Homo sapiens: one gene and its partners. The protein of the gene in region 2 purifies or fractionates together with the protein of the main gene of each other region. This does not show direct contact. Each region holds a gene or a part of one and is shown on either strand. Other genes may lie near its edges.

Region 1 (7,023 bases), on a different chromosome or scaffold from region 2:
TCAGAGGCGCCCCACGGTTCCCCAAGTCTATTCCTGACCTACATGAAGGGCTCCCCAAGGCCTGGGCTCCCCCGCCGGGGACCTCATCTGGCATTTGCCAAAGACCACCTGCTTGGGAGCCCTGCTCTACTGCAGATCTGAGACACTCATGTCCTCAGTGTCCCTGCATGGGCACCTCTAACTCAACATGGCCACCTCCCAGCCTGCCTTGTCCTTGGTCTCCCTAATCTCGGTAAGGATAGCCCTGTTCCTCCAGGTACGCAGGTTAAAAATCCTAGAGGCTAGGCCGGGCGCGGTGGCTCACGCCTGTAATCCCAGCACTTTGGGAGGCCGAGGCGGGCGGATCACGAGGTCAGGAGTTCGAAAACATCCTGGCTAACACGGTGAAACCCCGTCTCTACTAAAATACAAAAAATTAACCGGGCATGGTGGCACATGCCTGTAGTCCCAGCTACTCAGGAGGTTGAGGCTGGAGGATCGCTTGAACCCAGGAGGCGGAGGTTGCAGTGAGCCGAGATCGTGCTACTGCACTCCAGCCTGGGCAACAGAGTGAGACTCCATCTCAAAAAAAACAAAACAACAACAACAAAAAAACCCTGAGGCTGGCAGGCACCTGTAATCCCAGCTACTTGGGAGGCTGAAGCACTAGAATTGCTTGAACCCGGGAGGCAGGGGTTGCAGTGAGCTGAGATCACGCCACTGCATTCCAGCCTTGGTGACAGAGCAAGACTCTGTCTCAAAAATGAACTAAAACCCAAAACCCTAGAGGCACCCTCACCTTTGTCCTTTACCCACATATTCACCTGGGTACCTTCAGCACATCCTACTGCTCCCACATTTTTTTGTAATGCAGTTTTGCTCTGTCACCCAGGCTGCAGTGCAGTGGCAAACCACAGCTCAAACTCCTGAGCTCAAGTGATCCTCCTGCCTCAGCCTCCCAAATAGTTGGGACTATAGTACTCAGTCACCAAGCCTGGCCTGACCTCCACTTTTATTTAATTAATTAATTTATTTATTTATTTATTTTTGAGATGGAATTTCGCTCTTGTTGCCTAGGCTGAAGTGCAATGGCACGATCTCGGCTCACAGCAACCTCTGCCTCCCAGGTTCAAGCGATTCTCCTGCCTCAGCCCCCCGAGTAGCTGGGATTACAGGCACACACCACCATGCCCGGCTAATTTTGTATTTTCAGTAGAGATGAGGTTTCTCCATGTTAGGCTGGTCTCAAACTTCCAACCTCAGGTGATCTGCCCACCTCAGCCTCCCAAAGTGCTGGGATTACAGGCGTGAGCCACTGCGCCCGGCCTCCACTTTTAAAGTCTGGCAGAATCTGCCCACTTCTCTCCTCCTCCCTGGCCCCACCCTCTCCTGATCTAGGATGCGGTGACTGGAGGGGCTTGAGTCCCAGTGGAGAGGAGTCGGCCTTACCTAGAGCATTGTGGGCTGGTTCCCTGGGGAGGGGGCCTCCAGCCACCTGGCAGCTCAGGGACCCTACCTTAATCTTAGTGAAGAACTGCCGGAAGCAGGCCCGGGGGTCCACCTTTAGGCTCTTGGCCAGCTCCAGGATAAATTGCATGACGATTGTCTGGTGGGCCACCTGCTCCATGAGTGCACATTTCTGCCAGGAAGAACAGGCACAGCGTCACCAAGTGGCGGCCTCATGGCAGCGCCTTTTCACAGTCCCGGGGAAAGCTCCACTCACCTCCTCCACCTCTAGGTCAATGCACCAAATGACCAGGTAATTGGCTGTCTCCTCGCACACCAGGTGGACGTTGTCTGACAGGTACTTTTGGCTGTCATCCCAGCGGCGAAGCATGCCTGTGGGAAGATGCTGGCAAGGTGCTGGAGGGCCCTGGAGGCAAAGGGCCTGCCTCGACCTTGCCCCCCATAACCCACAAGCCCCACTCACCAAAGTGCTTGATCTGTTTCTCGTATTTTTCCACGAAGGTCTTGTGTTTCTGCTCCCTCACCTCCTCTGAGTCCTCCTCCGTCTTCTCGGGCTTGGTATTTACCATGCTCTGTGGTAGGGTGAGAGGGGGAGTGGGCTGGGGCAAGGCTGCGGAGCGCCTCGAGCGCGGCCGGGCGGGCCGTGGTCGCAGCGCCCATCCCATCCACGGCGGAGGTGGTGACGAAGCCATGAGCATCAAGGTGGCGGGAGCGTGGGCATGGGCCTTGGGGCAGATCAGAGGAGGGGACCGGTGGGGTGTTTCATCCGCCCGGCCCCCCAAGCCTGTCCCCCCTCCCACGTGGCCCCCGTCCATCCCTCAGCTCCCCGCCCCCCACCACACTCTTCAACTACACCACCGGGGTCCTCCCCTGACCAGGCATTGGGTGCGCATGCGTCCTGGTTGCAGGCTCTCTGGCTGCGCATGCGCACTGCCCGCCCCGCCCGCCCCGCACACCTTGCTGAAGCCGTCTTTGCTGAGCGTGTCCACGTTCCAGGGCATGCTCTTCTCCTTCTTGCGCATCTCCTCCAGCTTCTGCTCCCAGCTCCGCTCCTCCTTGCGCAGCTGCTGTGCCTCGGCCTGCAGGCGCTCCAGCTCTGCCTTGCCGCCCTCGGCCACCTCCAGCTCCTTCAGTTTCCTCTGGCACTCGGCCACCTTGCGCTTGCACTCGCGGCAGCCCCTGTCCAGTTCCTCCTTCTCCTTCTGGAACTGCTCCATGCGTTCCACCCGGGCCTGCGGGCAGGGACGGCCTATCAACTCTGGGGAGTCGTCTGTCCCTTACCCCCGCCCCATACCCAATCCCTGCACCGGAGATGGCCCCAGGAAAAAGTACGCGTCCACCTCCCGTGCCCTGGTCTCCCAGCTTCCGCCCCTGCGCCCACAGGTGCCAGCGCACACCCAAGTGGGGTCAGGTCCCTCCGTCCTCTGCTCAGAACCCTGGCGGCTCCCATCTCACAGCAGAACCCAAGTTGTCACCACAGCCTACATGGGCCCTACACAATCTGCCTCGGCACCTCCCCTGGTAACTCTTCCTTCCAGCTACACCAGCCCCTCACTTTTCTCACCTTTTCTTGAGGCCATTTTTTTTGTTTAAGAAAACAAAACAAAACAAAACAAAAAACAGGGTCTCACTCTGTCGTCCAGGTCAGAGTGCAGTGGCCCAATGATGACATACTGCAGCCTCGACCTCCCTGGGCTCAGGCGATCCTCCCACCTCAGTCTCCCAAGTAGCTGGGACTACAGGTGTGCACCAGCACGCCCAGCTAATTTTTGTATTTTCAGTAAAGATGGGGTTTGCCATGTTGCCCAGGCTGGTCTTGAAGTCCTGGGTTCAAGCGATCCTTCCCTCTCGGCCTCCCAAAGTGCTGGGACTACAGGCGGGAGCTACTGCACTCTGCGGAGCCCACTTTTTTCTTGAACCTCAAGGCCTTCGCACTGGCTGTTCCAACTACTTGGAATGCTTTTCCTTCAGAGCCCCCCACAGCTGACTCCATGGCACCCGTGCCATCTGGGCTCCATGTTGCCTTAGCGAGGACCCCTTCCCCAACCACCTTCCTGATGATGGCAACTTCCCGCTGCCCCTGTCTGGAATTCCCTGCCTCCTCAACATCAGCAACCACTAACATCATATGACAATTATTTATCACGTTTTGGGTACTGCCCCCCTCCAATGAATGAAGCCCTGCTCTCTAAATATGGGAACGTGTTCGCCATTTTGTTCCCAGAACCAGGAACGTGGCCTGGTGCAAAGCACGGGCTCAGCAAATGCTTGTTTTTTTTTTTGTTTTTATTTTGTTCAGTTTTGTTTGAACAAGGTCTTGTTGTCATGCAGACTAGAGTGCAGTGGTGTGATAATGGCTCACTGCAGCCTTGATCTCCCAGGCTCAACCTGCCTCAACCCCAAGTAGCTGGGACTACAGGTGCACACAAACCACCAAGCCTGGCTTTTTTTTTTTTTTTTTTTTTTTGAGACGGAGTCGCCCAGGCTGGAGTGCAGTGGCGTGATCTTGGCTCACTGCAACCTCTGCCTCCCGTGTTCAAGCAATTTTCCTGCCTCAGCCTCCTTAGTAGCTGGGATTACAGGCACGCGCCACCACGCCTGGGTAATTTTGTATTTTTAATAGAGACGGGGTTTCTCCATGTTGGCTGGTCTTGAACTCCTGACCTCAAGTGATCCACCCACCTTGGCCTCCCAAAGTGCTGGGATTACAGGCATGAGCCACTGCACCAGGGCCCCTTCTAGATGTTTCTTTGTTCCACCCATAACCTTGCCCCAGGATCACTGCCAAGGCCCTCTTAGCTCTGTCTCCAGCCCAGCATGCCCTCCTGAGCCCCAGCTTGGTGTCTACCTGCTTCCCGCTCACCCCAGCCCCAGATGTCACTCCCCAGGCACTCCTCTTTCTCCTTATAACAGTGCCTCATCTCCTCAGGCTCCTGGTCCCCGCCTCACTCCCTGTCTCCCTCAGACCTCCATCTGGGCCCCATCGGATTGTACAGGCCTCTCCTGAGACCCCTGCGTGGCTCCACCATCACCTCTCCTGAACCTCAGTGGAGGCTGCTCTATCCAGAGCCACTAATCAAACCCTGAAACCCTGAAACGTGCCACCACCTTCAATTGCTGACCCTCTCCAATCCAGGCACAGCTGCCACCAGGGAGGCCTGTGAAGCCCATGCATTTGACCACGTGACCAGAGTCCTCCCCACTACATCTTGGGGGGTCTGAATTCAGATGGGACTTCTGATCCTGGCATCCTGGTCCTGGGTCCCAGGCAGATACTGGCCCTCATCGTTCCCCGAAAGTACGGGCTCTGTCTTGCCTCTTGGCCTCTGCATGTGCGGTTCCCTTACCTGCTTTTGCACCCAAAACTCAGCTTCAACAGAGCCTTCCCCAAATGCTCCCTGCCTGAGGCACCACTGATCCCTAAAGGACCTCCTGTGACCATCTGACGATGTGGTGAGGGTGCTGGAGGACAGCCTTGGGGCAACGGCCCCTGGGTCCTAGCCCACAGCCACCATGTACCGGCTGGGTATCCCGGGCCATCCCCTAACCTCCTGTAACCTCAGTTTCCTCATCTGTCAAACAGTCAACAATGCTGACTGCACAAGCTCATATTGGAAGAAACTAAGGAGATGATTAGAGTAAAATGTCCCGAGCCATGTGGGCCCTCAGCACGCACCCTTCCTGTACTGGCCAGGGTCATTACCATCTGTGCAAGAGAACAATCTCTCTCTCTCTCTGGGGACCACTCTGGGGCCTCAAAAAGGAAATGTCCTTCAAATGCTTAGTTTAATTTCTGGCCCAGAGTACACGCTCAATAACTGGGAGTGGTTGTTACTACATGGTCACAGCACCCGGCTGTGCCACTGACGGGAGATGGAACTTTGGCCATGTCACTGAAACCTTTCCCAGCCTTGGTCTTCCCCTCTGTGAAATGGAGTCTCACAGGATCGCCGTGAGAACTGAATGACTAACTCTATGGAAAATGCTTCCAAAACAGCCCTCAGTAGGTGTGTCCCACTGTTACCATCTCCGTCCTTGTCACTGCCACCTGAATGGTCTGCTGACTCATTCCTGTGCCTTATCTGAGGCTGTGTCCCCAGGTTCTAAGGCAGGGCCAGGCAGAGCTGGCCCCTACTCTAATACCCCAGGGGACTGACACAGCCAGCCTGAGCCTCGGATTCCCCTATATGTATAAGGGGTCAAGAAGGCCTACGTGGTCGAGCGTGGTGGCTCACTCCTGTAATCCCAACACTTTGGGAGGCCGAAGCGGGTGGATCACCTGAGGTCAGGAGTTTGAAACCAGCCTGGCCAACATGGTGAAACCCCGTCTCTCCTAAGAACACAAAAATTAGCCAGGCGTGGTGGCAGGCGCCTGCAATCCCAGCTACTCCAGAGGCTGAGGCAGAATCGCTTGAACCCGAGGCAGAAGTTGTAGTGAGCTGAGATCGCCCCACTGCACTCCAGCCTGGGCGACAGAGCATGACCCTGTCTGAAAAAAAAAAAAAAAAAAAAAAAAAGCTATACCTCATGAGATAAACAGCAGCTGCAGGCTGGGCACAGTGACCCATGCCTATAATCCTAGCACTTTGGGAGGCCGAGGTGGGAGGATCACTTGAGCTCAGGAATTTGAGACCAGCCTAGGCAACATAGTGAGATTCCATCTCTTAAAAAAAAAAAGTTGCTGGGTGTGGTGGCTCATGCCTGTAATCCCAACACTTTGGGAGGCCAGGCGGGCAGATCATGAGGTCAGGAGTTCGGGACCAGCCTGGCCAACATGGTGAAACCCCATCTCTACTTAAAAAATACAAAAATTAGCCGGGCATGGTGGCGCGCACCTGTAGTCCCAGCTACTCGGGAGGCTGAGGCAGGAGAATTGCTTGAACCTGGGAGGTGGAGGTTACAGTGAGCCGAGATGGCACCACTGCACTCCTGTCTGGGCAACAGAGTGAGACTCCGTCTTAAAAAAAAAAAAAAAAAAAAAAAAAGCAGCTGTGGCCTCTCCAACTCCCTTTCTCCACGATGGGCCTGTGTCACCCTGGAGCCTGCCCACCACCCTGCAATCCGCTGCTGGGCTGCCACCAGTCTCCCCTGTGTCCTCTGAACAACTGCCAGGGAGGCCGCAGCTAAAAAAGGCCTCTTGGAGTTGGCGGGGGCGGCAGCCTGCCCAGCCTGGGCTTTACACCTCCTATCGGGGAGGGGCTGTAGCAGGCTGGGCAGGGGAGAAGCCACCCCAGCAAGCAGGGCCCACAGATGTCACTACCCTCCTGCCTTACAGTTAGGGAAACTGAGGCTCACAGAATCTCAATGTCATACAACTCATTAGAAGAAACCACTAACAGCAGCTGTCTCTGGGCAGGAGAGCCGGCGAGCTGGGGCTGAGAAAAGGGATTCATTTGTCCGCTTCTGGAAACTTTGAAATTTTTTTTTTTAAGAGACAAGGTCTTAGGCCAGGCTTGGTGGCTCACACCTACAATCCCAGCACTTTGTGAGGCTGAGGCAGGTGGATTGCCTGAGCTCAGCAGTTTGAGACCAGCCTGGGCAACATGGTGAAACCCTGTCTCTACCAAAAAGTACAAA
Region 2 (7,023 bases):
AATAGAGACAGGGTTTCACCATGTTGGCCAAGCTGGTCTCAAACTCCTGGCTTCAGGTGATCTGCCCATCTCAACCTCCTAAAGTGCTGGGATTACAGGCCTGACTCACCATGCCCAGCCAGCACTTTTTTTTTTTTTTTTTTTTGAGTTAGAGTCTCACTCTGTTGCCCAGGCTGGAGTACAGCGGTGCGATCTCGGCTCACTGCAGCCTCTGCCACCTGGGTTTAAGTTCAAGCGATTCTACTGCCTCAGCCAGCCCAGTAGCTGGGGTTACAGATGCTCACCACCACGCCCAGCTAATTTTTGTATTTTTAGTAGAGATGGAGTTTCACCATGTTGGCCAGGCAGCTCTCAAACTCCTGACCACCCGCTTCGGCCTCCCAGTGTGCTGGGATTACAGGCATAAACCACCACGCCCAGCCTCCTATAATTTTTATTATAGTATGTTGTTGTAATTGTTCTATTTTATTATTAGTTATTATTGTTAATCTCTTACTATGCCTAAGTAAAAAACTCCATCACAGGTACATATGCATAGGGAAAAGCATGGTATATATAGGGTTCAGTACTGTCTGCAATTTTAGGCATCCACTGGGGGGTCTCAGAATGTATTCTCTGTGGATAACAGAGGACTACTGTATTACAAACTGCTCTTTAAATTTTTTTTTCTATTTTATGGAGGTATAAATGATAAAATTTGTATATACTTAAGGAGTACAATATAATGATTTACGTATATATTACATGAGGATTACCACAATGAAATTCATTAACACATCCTTCATCACACAGTTACCATTTGTGTGTATGTGATGAGGACATAAACTGCTTTTAATATTTTATTTACAACAAGCCTATTAAGGAGGTAGTTGTTTTATCATGCTCTCCATTTTATAAATTAAAAACTGAGGTCAAGTGGTTGTCTTGTGAACAGTCATACCACCAAGTAAATAAAAGAATGAGGCTGGATACGGTGGCTCACACTTGTAATTCCAGCACTTTGAGAGGCCAAGGTGTTGGCAGCTGCAACTCCAGAGGGCTTGCTGCTGTCATCAAACTGGCTGCAGCAGAGAGGTATGGATAGGGCTGCATGATCCATGGAGCTAGCGGGAGCCCTTCCCCTTCTGAGTTGGGGCAGGAGCTCCCCTGGTGCTGCTGGAGCTACACAAACTGCAGCTGTTAACCTGGGCCTCCTGTTCCACGGAGCAGGCAGAAGCCCTGCCCTCCTGGGTGGGCTTGCAGCCGCCCAAGTTGTGGCTGCAGATCCGAGCCTCCCTGTGGTCTTGTGGGGGCCGGGAGCAGGCAGGATCCCTGCCTTCCCGGGTGCAGCTGCAGCTGCCCTCCCAGGTGCAGGACCTAATAGTCTCTGCAGCCTGCACCCTTGGGGGCCCAGGAAGGCCTCCCCACCACCCCCATATCCCCACTTCTCTCTGCTCTTGGCACCCACTCCAATCTCAGAGTGGGGTTGGGGCAAGTCCAGGTGCTGTTACAGTCCGGGGGCGGATCTGTGTGTGCACCCTCAGGGCAGCACCCTGCCACCTTGACCCCCTCTAGAATTTGGGCACGGAGAAGCAAAAGAGGGGAAGCCAAGTAGGGACTGAGGGTGGTCAGTGCTGGCCTTTAGGTGCACCTTGGTGTGAGCAGCCTGGTGCCATGGACTGCTGAGAGAGACAGACAGGCTCCTGGGTAGAAGGGAGGTTCCTGTAAGTCCCCACCTTCAGGACGGGGAGGGCTTAAAGGCTGGGGACCGGGCTGCTAGTCCCACCCACTGGATGGGGATTTGTGCTGCCTTTTCTCACAGTCCATGAACCAATCAGGAAGCACTTTCTCCCCTCTGAGGTCCATAAAAGGCCCAGGCTCAGCCAGAGCAGGGTAGAGGATGGAGAAAAGATCAGACAACCAAAGAGGAGAGAGGAGCTATGCTGTCTGCTGAAAGCTGGGAAATCAACAGGGAGGACCTGCCTGCAGAGAGGAGCCACCCACTCCAGGGCCTCCTCTCTGCTGAGAGCTGAATACGGGATAAGACAAACTGCCTACAGAGAGGAGCTGCCCCCTGTGGGTCTCCTCTGAGCTGTTCTAACACTCAATAAAGCTTCTCTTCGTCTTGCTAACCCTCTACTTGTCTGCTTACCTCGACGCAGGACAACAACTCAGGCAAAGGCACCACTGGGCAGAAAGGTTTCTGGCCAGAAAAGCAACACCCTAAAGATCCCGCAACAAAGGCAAGAGGATTGCTGGAGCGCAGGAGTTCCAAACCAGCTTGGGCAACACATCAAGACCCCATCTCTACAAAAAATTTTAAAAATTAGCTGGGCATGGTGGTATGCACCTATAGTCCTAGCTACTCAGGAGGCTGAGGTGGGAGGATTACTTGAGCCCAGGAGTTCAACACTGCACTCCAGTCTGGGTGACAGAGCAGAGCAAGACCCTATCTAATTAATTAAATAATTAAAAAAAATAAAAGCATGAGGACTAGAATGCAACTGTTCTAACTCCACTATACCATACTGGCCTTGTGAAATGAATAAATTTTAAAGACAAACCCATAGCCCTACTTGTTTCAAAGCAACAAAGCTGATTTAGAAATGCTAAATGTAGGCCAGGCATGGTAGCTCATGCCTGTAATCCCAGCACTTTGGGAGGCCAAGGTGTGTGAATCACTTGAGTCCAGGAGTTTGAGACTAGCCTGGGCAATATTGTGAAACCACATCGCTACAAAAAATACAAAAAATTAGCCAGGTATGATGGCATGTGCCTATAGTCCCAGCTACTTGGAGGCTGAGGTGGGAGGACTGCCAGAGCCTGGGGAGATTGAGGCTGCAGTGAACTTTAATTGTGCCACGTACCCCAGCCTGGGCTACAGAGAAAGACCCTGTCTATCTAAAAAAAAAAAAAAAAAAAAAAAAACCAAAAACCAAAAACCAAAAAAAGCTAAATGCCTCAGAAACTATCTTTGGCATATCAGCATATAGGCTATAACCCACATGCTTCAGGTATATCTATCAGTGATATGGGAAAGAAAAAAGGAAACAAAAGACTGTATTATAAAATACCTGAAAAGTAATGTTAGGTATATTCTATACATTTATACATTACCATTATCCTGGAGACATTACTTATCCTAGATTACTTTGATGGTGATCCACTCAAACTATTGACTGGAACCTGTTCACCAGCAGTAAGAAGATTTCTGTAGTGACCTGATAACCTATCAGTCAGGTAACCCTACAGTCTAAAGATAGGTTACGCCAGGCGTGGTGGCTCATGCCTGTAATCCCAGCTCTTTGGGAGGCCAAGGCGGGCAGATCACTTGAGGTCAGGAGTTCGAGACCAGTCTGGCCAACATGGCAAAACCCCGTCTCTACTAAAATTACAAAAAATTAGCCAGGCATGATGGCGTGCTTTGGGAGGCTGAGGCAAGAGAATCACTTAAACCCAGGAGACGGAGGTTGCAGTGAGCTGAGATACCACCACTGCACTCCAGCCTAGGTGACACAGCAAGACTCCATCTCAAAAATAAATAAATAAATAAAGATAGGTTATCACATCTTGTTGATCTCTGTAGCTCTAGCATTTAGTAGAGTGACTCATACATATCAGGCATAAAATGTTTATTCAAGAATGAATTGTTGGCTGGGCATGGTGGCTCACGCTTGCAATCCCAGCACTTTGGAAGCCTGAGGTGGGTAGATCACCTGAGGCCAGGAGTTTAAGACCAGCCTGGCCAACATGGTGAAACCCTGTCTCTACTAAAAATACTAAAAATTACCCGGGTGTGGTGGTGCACACCTGTAATCCCAGCTACTCGAGAGGCTGAGGCAGGAGAATCGCTTGAACCTGGGAAGAGGAGGTCGCAGTGAGCCAAGATGGCGCCACTGCACTCCAGCCTAGGCGACAGAGCGAGAATCTGTCTTAAAAAAAACAAACAACAAAAAAAAGAAGAATGAATTCTTAATTAAACTAAATTTGGCCTGGGGATGCCTCTGTACTTGAGTCTTTATATACCAAGTTGCAACCTAACTTAGTACTTAAACTAACTGAAAGCCTAATTTAGAAGTATACTTTTGTATCAAAAAGCTGAGTCTCAGGAAAGCACAGCAGCTGAGCTTCAGTCAACCACAAGCAATCAACTGTTTAAACCATGTTCAAATAAGGCAAACTCAAGGCTGCAACCAACTGGGCTGTCTCTGTACCTCACTTCTATTTTCTGTACTTCATTTCCATTTTCTGTCCATAATACTGCCTGACCACATGGCAAACTGGAGTTTTACTGAACATGTTCTGGCTATGAGGGTTGCTGGATTCACTAGTTATTTTTTTGCTCAAATAAACTCTCCTAAGTTTAATTTGTCTAGTTCTTCTTTTAACAGAATGAAGGAATATGAAGAATACAAAGATACTACCACAGAACACTTTACCTTTGCTTCTTGATCTTTCAGGGAAAACTCCATTAATTCATCTGAAATCTCTTCTGCCTGGTCTTCTCCTAGGTTTGGATTTTTATCCAATTTTGGAACAGTAGTAATGGGACTGCCCAAATATTTCATTTCACTGTCCACCAAGTTTCCATTGTCCTGTCAAGTATATTGACAACATTAAAAACTATTCAAAATATATCAAAGTTCTAAATGTAAGAGCTAAAACTATAAAACTCTTAGAAGAAAAGATAAGGGAAAAAATTCATGACACTGGATTTGGATAATGCCACCAAAAGCACAGGTAACGAAAGAAAAAAACAGATAAATTGGTCTTCATCAAAATGGAAAACTTTTGTGCATCAAAGAACACCATTAAGGGAATGAAAAGGCAACCCACAAAATGGGAGAAAACATTTGCAAGTCTTATATTTGATGAGAGATTAATATCAGAATATATAAGGAACTCCTACAACTCAGTAACAACAACAATAACAATCAAAAGGGACATGAATAGACATTTCTCCAAAGAAGATATACAAATGGCCCATAAGCACATCAAAAGATGCTCAACAAAGTAATCATTATGGAAATGCATATGAAAATTGCAAGAGATACTTCTTTATACCCATTAGGATAGCCATTATAAGAAATAACAAGTGTTTGTGCATTGCTGGTGGGAATGTAAAAGGGTGCAGAGGCATTCTATGGATAATAGCATGGCAGTTCCTCAAAAAATTAAATGTAGAATTATCATGTAATCAAGCAATTCTACTTCTGAATATATACCCAAAAGAATTAAAAGCAGGGGCCGGGCGCAGTAGCTCACGCCTGTAATCCCAGTACTTCGGGAGGCCGAGGCCAGCAGATCACGAGGTCAGGAGTTCGAGAGCAGCCTGGCCAACATGTTGAAACCCCATCTCTACTAAAAATACAAAAATTAGCCGGGCATGGTAGCATGTGCCTGTAATCCCAGCTACTTGGGAGGCTGAGGCAGGAGAACTGCTTGAACCAGGGAGGTGGAAGTTGCAGTGAGCTGTGATCGTTCCACTGCACTCCAGCCTGGGTGACAGGGCAAAGACTCCATCTTGGAAAAAAAAAATACACAAAATAAAATAAAAGCAAGGACTCAAGCAGATTTTGTACACCTATGTTCATAACGGCATTACTCACAATGGCCAAAAGGTTGGAAACAACTCAAAATGTCCATCAACAGATGAATGGATAAACAAAATATGATATATACATACAAAAGAAATGAAATTCTAATACATGCTATGACATAGATGAACTTTGAAGACATTACGCTAAATGAAAATATAGGCTGGACGCAGTGGCTCACACCTGTAACCCCAGCACTATGGGAGGCTGAAGCAGATGGATCTCTTGAACCCAGGAGTTTGAGACCAGCCTGGGCAACATGGCAAAACCCTGATTCTACAAAATATACAAAAAAATTAGGTTGAGGTGGGCAGATCACATGAGGCCAGGAGTTTAAGACCAGCCTGGCCAACATGGTGAAACTCCGTCTCTACTAAAAATACAAAAAAATTCACCAGGCATGGTAGCACACGTCTGTAATCCCAGCTACTAGGGAGGTTAAGGCATAAGAATCACCTGAACCTGGGAGATAAAGGTTGCAGTGAGTCAAGATTGCACCACTGCACTCCAGCCTGGGTGACAGAGTGAGACTCTGTCTCAAAAAAAAAAAAAAAAAAAAAAAAAAAAAAGTAGCCAGGCATAGTGGCACACACTTGCAGTCCCACCTACTTGGTAGGCTGAGGTGGGAGAATAATCAGAGCCCGGGAGTTTGAGGCTGCAGTGAGTTATGATTGTGCCACTGTACTCCAGCAGAGGTGACAGAGTGAGACCTCACACACACACATGAAAGGACAAAATATAATATTATTCTACTCATATGAGGTATCTAGAATAGTCAAATTCACTGACACAGAAAATAGAGGTTATCATTGGCTGGGCAGAAACAGGGATGGGGAGTTATCACTTAAGGGTATACAGCTTCTGTTTTGAATAATGAAAAAATTCTGGAAATGAGTTCTGGTGATAGTCTCACATTATTAATATACTTACTGTCACTAGACTGCACACTCACAAATAGTTAAAATTGTAAATATTATGTACATTTTACTGCAATTAAAAAAAATCACATATAAGACTATCCAATAATTGAACATACTCCAGGTCTTCCCTCCATCCTAGAAACCAAAAACCTAAATAAAACATGATCAACTTAGTGGCCAGGCGCGGTGGCTCATGCCTGTAATCCCAGCACTTTGGGAGGCCGAGGCAGGTGGATCACGAGGTCAGGAGATCGAGAGCATCCTGGCCAACATGGTGAAACCCCGTCTCTACTAAAATACAAAAAATTAGCTGGGTGTGGTGGTGCACGCCTATAGTCCCAGCTACTGGGGAGGCTGAGGCAGTGGAATTGCTTGAACCCAGGAGGCAGAGGTTGCAGTGAGCTGAGATCGCACCACTGCACTCCAGCCTGGTGACAGAGCAAGACTCTGTCTCAAAAAAAAAAAAAAAAAAAAAAAAAAAAAAAACCATGATCAACTTTATCTTCATAGGATAGAATATGTTAAAA
Region 3 (7,280 bases), on a different chromosome or scaffold from region 2:
CTCTGCAGGGCAGTTGCAGGACTGAAGTGGGCCATGAGTACAGGTTCTGCCTCTCTGCTTTGATCCTTGCTCACCAAAGTCTCAGCTTTCAGTTAGAATGTCCCCACTACTCAGGGATCACCAGTCACAGAGCCACACTGCTATTGCAAAATGAATCCCAAGCTACCCTGGGCCACAGACAGACCCAGACAGCCTGGGTCAGTCATCCTGCTAGAAACCTCGTGGGATCCCAAATGTGAGGAATATAAATGAATTTCAGGATCTTATTTTTGCAAACCCCTCCACATCTTAGAAAGTACCAGTCACTGATGGCTGGTCGCACTGGCTCACGCCTGTAATCCTAGCACTTTGGGAGGCCGAGGTGGGTTGATCACTTGAGGTCAGGAGTTCGAGACCAGCCTGGCCAACATGGTGAAACTCTGCCTCTACTAAAAATACAAAAATTAGCTGGGCAAGGTGGCGTGTGCCTGTAATATCAGCTACTTGGGAGGCTGAGGCACGAGAATCGCTTGAAACCGGGAGACAGAGGTTGCAGTAAGCCAAGATCGTGCCACTGCACTCCAGCCTGGGTGACAGAGCAAAACTCTGTCTCAAAAAAAAAAGAAAGTACCAGTCACTGTGCTGTTTCTCTTTATACTTTTCTGCATCTAGGAAGGGCTTTCACAAAGTGCTGTATAATCCCTTTTCTTCATTATCACATGTTGGCCCATCTCTGAAGATATGGCTGTTAACAAGCTTGCAGCAGGAAGGAAAAAAAAATTGCCCTTAGTCCTTTGCACATGCTTTCATACCTTTTACATACAATTCTATCCTTTATGGCTACTTGGGTGACATAAAAATAGTTGCCTGAATCTGTGTAGGGATTTCTCCTCACACTCAAATGAGGCCTGAACAAACAGCGTGGCAGAGCCAGGCCCACTTCTTTTTTTTTTTTTTTTTTTTTTTTTTTCAAATAACAGAGTTAGGGTCTGGCTACGCTCCCCACACTGGTCTCGAACTCCTGGCCTCAAGGGATCCTCAAGGCCTCCCAAAGTGGTGGGAATACATGCATGAGCCACTGTGCCCAGCCCAGGCCCACTTTTCTCCTGACACATGACAACAAGTTCATCACAACACATAGTTAAATATAAAGGCACAATGAGAATGGGTCATTAAGCTAGCAAGAGCTGCTTTCCACTCAGAAGCGCTCTTCAACAACTCCTCTCAACCAGAGAACAGTTCGCCAGTGAGAGAGGACTGCGACACCAGTTCCACCTCCTCCCGTCTACTCTGACAGAGGAGGCTGTTCCCTACAATCCTCCCTAGACAGCAGGTGGCTGGTCCCCAGGCTCTCCACGCTGTTGGCCTCTTGGCATCCTCCCATTGATGCGGGCAGCTGGCCTCAGCCCTGCACAGCCTACTGACACCGATGTCCAGGGGAAGCAACAGGTTTTCACCAGGAGGAAGACTCAGTCCTAAAAGGAGAGGTAACCAGCAAAGATGTCCACTTGCCCCTTCAGGTCTACCCTTTGGCTACACCCCCAAGCAGCTGCAGAACAGTCTTTCAAGACTCATTGAAGATCATCTTACACAATGCCTGCATGAATGTGGTCCTGGACAGTTTCAACCAATATCTCAGTTTTTGGTCCAGCAAGACTTTGAGGACAGGTTCTTTTCCAGAGTCCCCAGAACATCTGTTCTGCCCAAATGCTGAAGGAAGAAACAGGCTGCAAACAGGAATGGGAAATTAGAAAAGACCATTCCTACCCTAAAGCTACTTGAGGGTTACTCTCAGCTCCCCGGAGAAACTGCAGGCCATGGCCGAGAAGCTCCTCTTAATGTCCCACTGCACAATTCCTCCCTGCTGGGGTCCCAGAGTCTCCACCATTTATTTCCAACTGGAGGTGGGAAGCTGTCGGCCCCTTCAATCCTAAGCCAAACCATGGTTCTCTCTACCTAATGCCCTAAAGCGAAGCAACTGCAGAGCTAGGAGGAAGCTCTGCACGGAGAAAGAGAACAGTGCAGAGTAAGCAAAAAGTTTATCAGGAAGAGCTGCTCCGTCAAACTTCAAAAGCAAAAGCTTTGCCCTGATACGACGTCTGAGCTAATCGGGAAGGTATCAAAAGGAGACCTCCTCCTCTCTCCACAAGCACCAGGCCCTCATCTTTGGCCCTCCTACCCACCACAGGAGAGCCCTGGGCCCCCCGAACCCCCCATTCTATGCAGTCTCGTGCCCTCTGAGCTTCTTCGGCTTCGCTCCTCCAAAGCCCTCTCAAATGCTCCCCAGGCCCCGCCTCGCCTCTCCCATCCCACTTCGGCCGCCCCCGCTTGGCTTCCCCTCGCCCACTAATGACCCCCTACAGGCGCCCCCTCTTTTCACCACGTTTACAGTTCCCTCGCTCCTGCCGTTCCCCCCTCTGCTCCTACACACACCCCCAGTCCTCACTCTATTCTCCTAATCCCGGTTAACCCCTCAGTACCCACGGGCTCCGTTAACCCCTTTGTCCCCATTCCCAACTTGAGCCTTAACTCCTTCCCTCGCAGCAAGAAGCCCTCCTTCTGAGTGCTTTAACCATTCTCTACCCCTCCTCCCACCTCCCACAAATTACTTCGCCCTCGGCGCTTTAACCCTTTCCAGCCCGCGCCTGTCCGTCTCCCCGCGGCCCAGAGCATACCAGTACTTGACGATAGCGGTAACCTGGAGCGGGTTCGGCTGGTCAGGGTAAAGGCGGCGGCACTCTCCGTAGATGGCGTGCAGTCCCGGGGGAAAGAGCGAAGCGAAGGCCGGGGGGGCAGTCGGGCCAGGGGCCGGGGGCGCGGTGGGGCCGGGGGCGCCGCTAGGCCGCAGCTCCGCCATCGGGGTGCGTAGGGCAGGCACTGGGGGAACTGGAGAGGGCAAACGACGGGGAGAGCACTGACGGGCCAGCGGGCGGACTCGGTGGGTGAGACTCCCCGAGGCGATGGGGGCTGCAGCGAGGTCTAGCTCCGCGCCTGCGCACGGCGCACTGTCCGCCCAGGCTGTCGCCGCCGCCGAGTCTGCCAGAGGGTGCCTCGGGGCGGCGGGGCGCTAAGGGGGGCGGGGCGCCGGCGCACCCTATCCAAGCACCCATTGGCTAATGTCTGTGCCAGTCACAGGCAGGGAAGGTGTGACTTGACAATAGGCCCCGCCTCCCCTCCCTGTGTTGGGAGTGTCCCAAGGCTCTTGGTCTCCCCCTAGTGTTAGGAGGAACCCAAGTTTAGAGATGCTGAGCACCCTCTGAGGTGCTAAGGTCCCACGAAAGCAGCGAGAAGTGCGCCAACAAAGGATTTGTTACTGTTTTGCTGACGCGCTGCTAACTAGGATTTAAACATAAATCTGACAATGGATTGATTCATTCATCCATGGGGCGTTAGTATTAATAGATGATAATAAATCTAATGTTTTCTAGGGCTATTGACAAAAAGGTCCCTGAAATTTCAAGGGGGCTGGGGGAGAACATAATCCAGAGAAAAAAATGCACTGGGCTCATTTGAAAGCAGTGACACATAACCTCTCTTCACCTCCATTTTCTCAACCATCAGTGTCAATTCTAGCTCGTTATGAAAATTAAAGAGATACTCGAGCAGTTTCTGAAACCCTTAGATGATGTTTTAATGACCAAAAGATTACCTATACCAGTAGTTCCAATTGCCAATCTTCGGATCAATGTTAGCCTGTTATGCAGAAAAAAAGAAAATGCAAAAGGCAACGACAATGTACAGGTTTTTAAACTTAAAGCTAATTTTATGCAATTTAAATTGTTTTCCTTTGTTGTAGGAATATGTCCTCTCGCGTACGTGTGTTAACATTTCCTTTTTGTTAGAGTGTGAGGTGCTAGGAGATGTTTATTAAAGTCTTACAGACCCAAATAAAAACATGAGAACCTTATATTGTCTAAGGGAACGTCGGGGGGAGTGGCAGGGCTGATCTGCAAAATCCAAACATCCATGAATTACGACCAATCCAAACCGAACTACAGACAAGTACTCGAGAAGACTACATACCTCAGCATGCACTGCGAACTCCTTCAAAGGGACTACAGATCCAGGCATGCAACATGACCATCAACCTGTGTCTCTGGCTGTTTAATCTAGGGAGACCACAAATCCCAGGGTACTGCGCATTGGAAATGCGACTCCCAATCTTAAACTAGGCGGGCAACAAAGCAAGCTAGATCGCTAACCCAGGCGCAAAGCTTGCTGGGGATTGTAGTTCTTCAGAGGCGAGGTCGGGCCGCTCCCTCGCCGCCCTGAACCGGCGGCTAGACTGCGCATGCGTGTCAGTGGCGCTAGCGGCGGACCCGGCTGGGCAGTTCCTTCCCCAGAAGGAGAGATTCCTCTGCCATGGAGTCCTACGATGTGATCGCCAACCAGCCTGTCGTGATCGACAACGTGAGTTGCGTCTTTCCTATCTATAAGGGGACTTGGGCTCTCCTCCTCGAAAGGATCGCTTCCCGGGGTTCAGCCTGAGCCGCCGGCTCTTTGTCACTGGCCCGGCCTGTCAGGCGCGTTCAGCCACCGCCGCCTCCTTCCTCCCCTTATCACATAGTCCGCAGGCAAGGCGGCCAGCCAGCAAAAGTGGGATGGAGAACTCTGGAGTGGATAAAGGAAAGAGTTATAGTCCAAGCCAGTCCTTGGGCCCTTGGCTCTAGGGGCCTTAACCGCTGTGTGAGATTCCCGTCGCCCGCCCTCTCCCCCATTTCCGATCGCTCTATTGGTTGCTCTGGCTGTCCATCTTAGCCAATGATACCGCCTCTTAGCCTTGCCGGATGAGGCTAGGCCTCTGCGGTGATTGGCTCACGCCCCTGCCATTCTTCCTTGCCGCCATATTGTTTTCCCTCTTGAAGGGGCGGGGCAGTGCTCCAGGGCTGTGGGGATTGGCTTCCGGGACTCTGGGTGGTGGGGCCTAGAGGCGAGTGCCCGCCCGCGGGTGGAGAACGGCTAAGTTTTCCTTCGGTCTCAGCCGGCGCTGCGGCTTGGTGGTGTGGATCTGGGTGGGGCCCGAGAATCTGGTGCCAGAAACCGCTGTAGGATGTCAGCTATTACTGTGATTATAAATTACAAAGTTGGTAAAGGTCGAGAAGAAAGGAGAGTGACAAAGGAAGCAGAGAGGTTGTCCTCCTCTTTGGAACGCCTAGTTCTTACGGGGAAAAAATTACCAAACTTAATATTTGCCTGGCGCTCTAGCGCTTCCAGGGCGTTTTCACATACATTCGAGTTGGATCCTCACAAAAACTGGACGCATAGTTTAAAAGGAACTTTGATCTTCGTGTTACCGATGAGAAAACTGAAGCGCGAAGACGTAACGTGAGCCCAAGGTCACATAGCAGAGGTGCCCTAAATCCAGTACTTTATCCGTCATCCCTTTTGCCAGCACCACCATGCAGAAGCATCAATATTGACCAATAGAAAGAATCTAAATACTGCTCTTATTTTGGGGGGAAAGGAGAAAATTGTAAAACGACTGCATTTCTGCCTTCGATTCAAAGCTTTGGTCCCACAGAGATTGATCCCTGTCTGTGTCCCTTGTAGGTCCCTCCATTGAGGCAAAACTACCAGTTCCCTCTGTTGTAAGCTGACTCTGTCAGATTCCCTTTGTTGATTCAGCTCTTGGGACCTTAGGCATATTACAATGTTCTCGTTTAAGCTTCAGCTCTGTTAGGTAGATAGGAATTACTATCCCCAGTGTATGCAGGGATGTTAAATAACAGATTTCAAACCATCCAGTTTAGGAATTGAGGAGCCAGTCATCAGACTAAGATCCAGTTCCAAGTTGCTTGCTTTTTCCAATATATTTTTGTTGTTGTTTTCATTAAATTTTCCTTCTCTCCATGGGTATTTTGTTTTTATTATTCCCCCTTAGAAAGGGGCAGGATTGAGCTCAATGAGACAGCTCATTTTTTTTTTCTTTTTTTTTTTTGGAGACAGGGTCTCGCTCTGTTGCTGAGTCTGAAATGCAGTGGCGCGATCACAGCTCACTGCAGCCTCAACCTCCTGGGCTCAAGTGATCCTCCCGCTTAAGCCTCCCGAGTAGCTGGGGCTGCAGGCACGCGCCACCACCCCTGGCTAATTTTTGTATTTTTTGTAGGAAGGGTTTCACCATGTTGTCCAGGCTGGTCTCAAACTCCTGGGCTGTTGCGATTCTCCTACCTTGGCCTCCCAAAGTGCTGGGATTATAGGCCTGAGCCACCGTGCCTGGCAGAGACGCCTCTTTTTTTGGTGTGGGGGGGTGGAGGGAACAGGATCTCGCTTTGTCACCCAGGCTGGAGTGCAATTGTGCGATCTCAGCTCACTGCAGCCTCCGCCTCCAGGTTCAAGAGATTCTCCAGCCTAGACTCCCAAGTAGCTGGGATTACAGATGTGCACCACCACGCCTGGCTAATTTTTGTTTGTTTGTTTGTTTGTTTGTTTGTTTGTTTGTTTTTGAGACGGAGTCTCACTGTCGCCCAGGCTGGAGTGCAGTGGCGCGATCTCGGCTCACTGCAAGCTCCGCCTCCCGGGTTCACGCCATTCTCCTGCCTCAGCCTCCCGAGTAGCTGGGACTACAGGCGCCCGTCACCTCGCCCGGCTAATTTTTTGTATTTTTAGTAGAGATGGGGTTTCACCGTGTTAGCCAGGATGGTCTCGATCTCCTGACCTCGTGATCCGCCCACCTCGGCCTCCCAAAGTGCTGGTATTACAGGCGTCAGCCACCGCGCCCGGCCTAATTTTTGTATTTTTAGTAGAGATGGGGTTTCACCATATTGGCCAGACTTGTCCTGAACTCCTGACCTCAAATGATCCACCCGCCTTGGCCTCCCAAAGTGCTGGGATTACAAGCATGAGCCACCACACCCAGCCCAGATACTTCATTTTTGAGAGGATCTTTTTGTCTCCCTCACTAGACTATTAAATCCTTGTGGAAAAAGATGATATTCTCCCACAGGTTTAGTGGTGTTGGGAAAAAAAATTTAAGAAAGATGATATTCCTTTAGTCTCACTTCACCCACTTCTCTCCACACACACACAGTATACCTAGGGTCTGGCACCTCTGTGTGCTCAATAAATGTTTTTTCATTGGATTGATGGGTGATTGGATGAATGACTGAATATCTCTATCAAAGTAACAAAGATATTCCTAAATAAAGAAAAGATGGGGAGTTTTCTCTAGTTAGTTACTGCAGATAATTGAGTAGGACTTTTTGTTCTTGATGTTGATTTTCAGAGAGCACTACGATTTCTGTCTTTAGCCAGGCTCTTTGTGCTTCTTCTGCCTTTTTCTTAGTTGTAAAAAGGAAAAATAT

The links.
Region 1: the proteins of CDC25C (region 2) and CDC37 purify together in Homo sapiens (affinity purification with mass spectrometry; 3 studies listed by BioGRID and IntAct, with this or other methods). This does not show direct contact.
Region 3: the proteins of CDC25C (region 2) and SUFU purify together in Homo sapiens (affinity purification with mass spectrometry; 5 studies listed by BioGRID and IntAct, with this or other methods). This does not show direct contact.

What each region holds. Positions count from the first base shown.
Region 1 is NC_000019.10:10,393,526-10,400,548, forward strand, and holds part of CDC37 (hsp90 co-chaperone Cdc37), read right to left. Parts: intron 2,679-7,023; coding exon 2,403-2,678; intron 2,019-2,402; coding exon 1,910-2,018; intron 1,819-1,909; coding exon 1,703-1,818; intron 1,619-1,702; coding exon 1,496-1,618; intron 1-1,495. UniProt on the Homo sapiens protein: Co-chaperone that binds to numerous kinases and promotes their interaction with the Hsp90 complex, resulting in stabilization and promotion of their activity. Inhibits HSP90AA1 ATPase activity.
Region 2 is NC_000005.10:138,314,801-138,321,823, forward strand, and holds part of CDC25C (M-phase inducer phosphatase 3), read right to left. Parts: intron 4,575-7,023; coding exon 4,419-4,574; intron 1-4,418. UniProt on the Homo sapiens protein: Functions as a dosage-dependent inducer in mitotic control. Tyrosine protein phosphatase required for progression of the cell cycle. When phosphorylated, highly effective in activating G2 cells into prophase.
Region 3 is NC_000010.11:102,499,709-102,506,988, reverse strand, and holds the start of SUFU (suppressor of fused homolog), read right to left. Parts: upstream 3,018-7,280; 5' UTR 2,837-3,017; coding exon 2,655-2,836; intron 1,707-2,654; exon of another isoform or gene 1,674-1,706; coding exon of another isoform or gene 1,570-1,673; intron 1-1,569. Other genes in the region: ACTR1A (alpha-centractin), read left to right, coding at 4,342-4,389. UniProt on the Homo sapiens protein: Negative regulator in the hedgehog/smoothened signaling pathway. Down-regulates GLI1-mediated transactivation of target genes. Down-regulates GLI2-mediated transactivation of target genes. Part of a corepressor complex that acts on DNA-bound GLI1.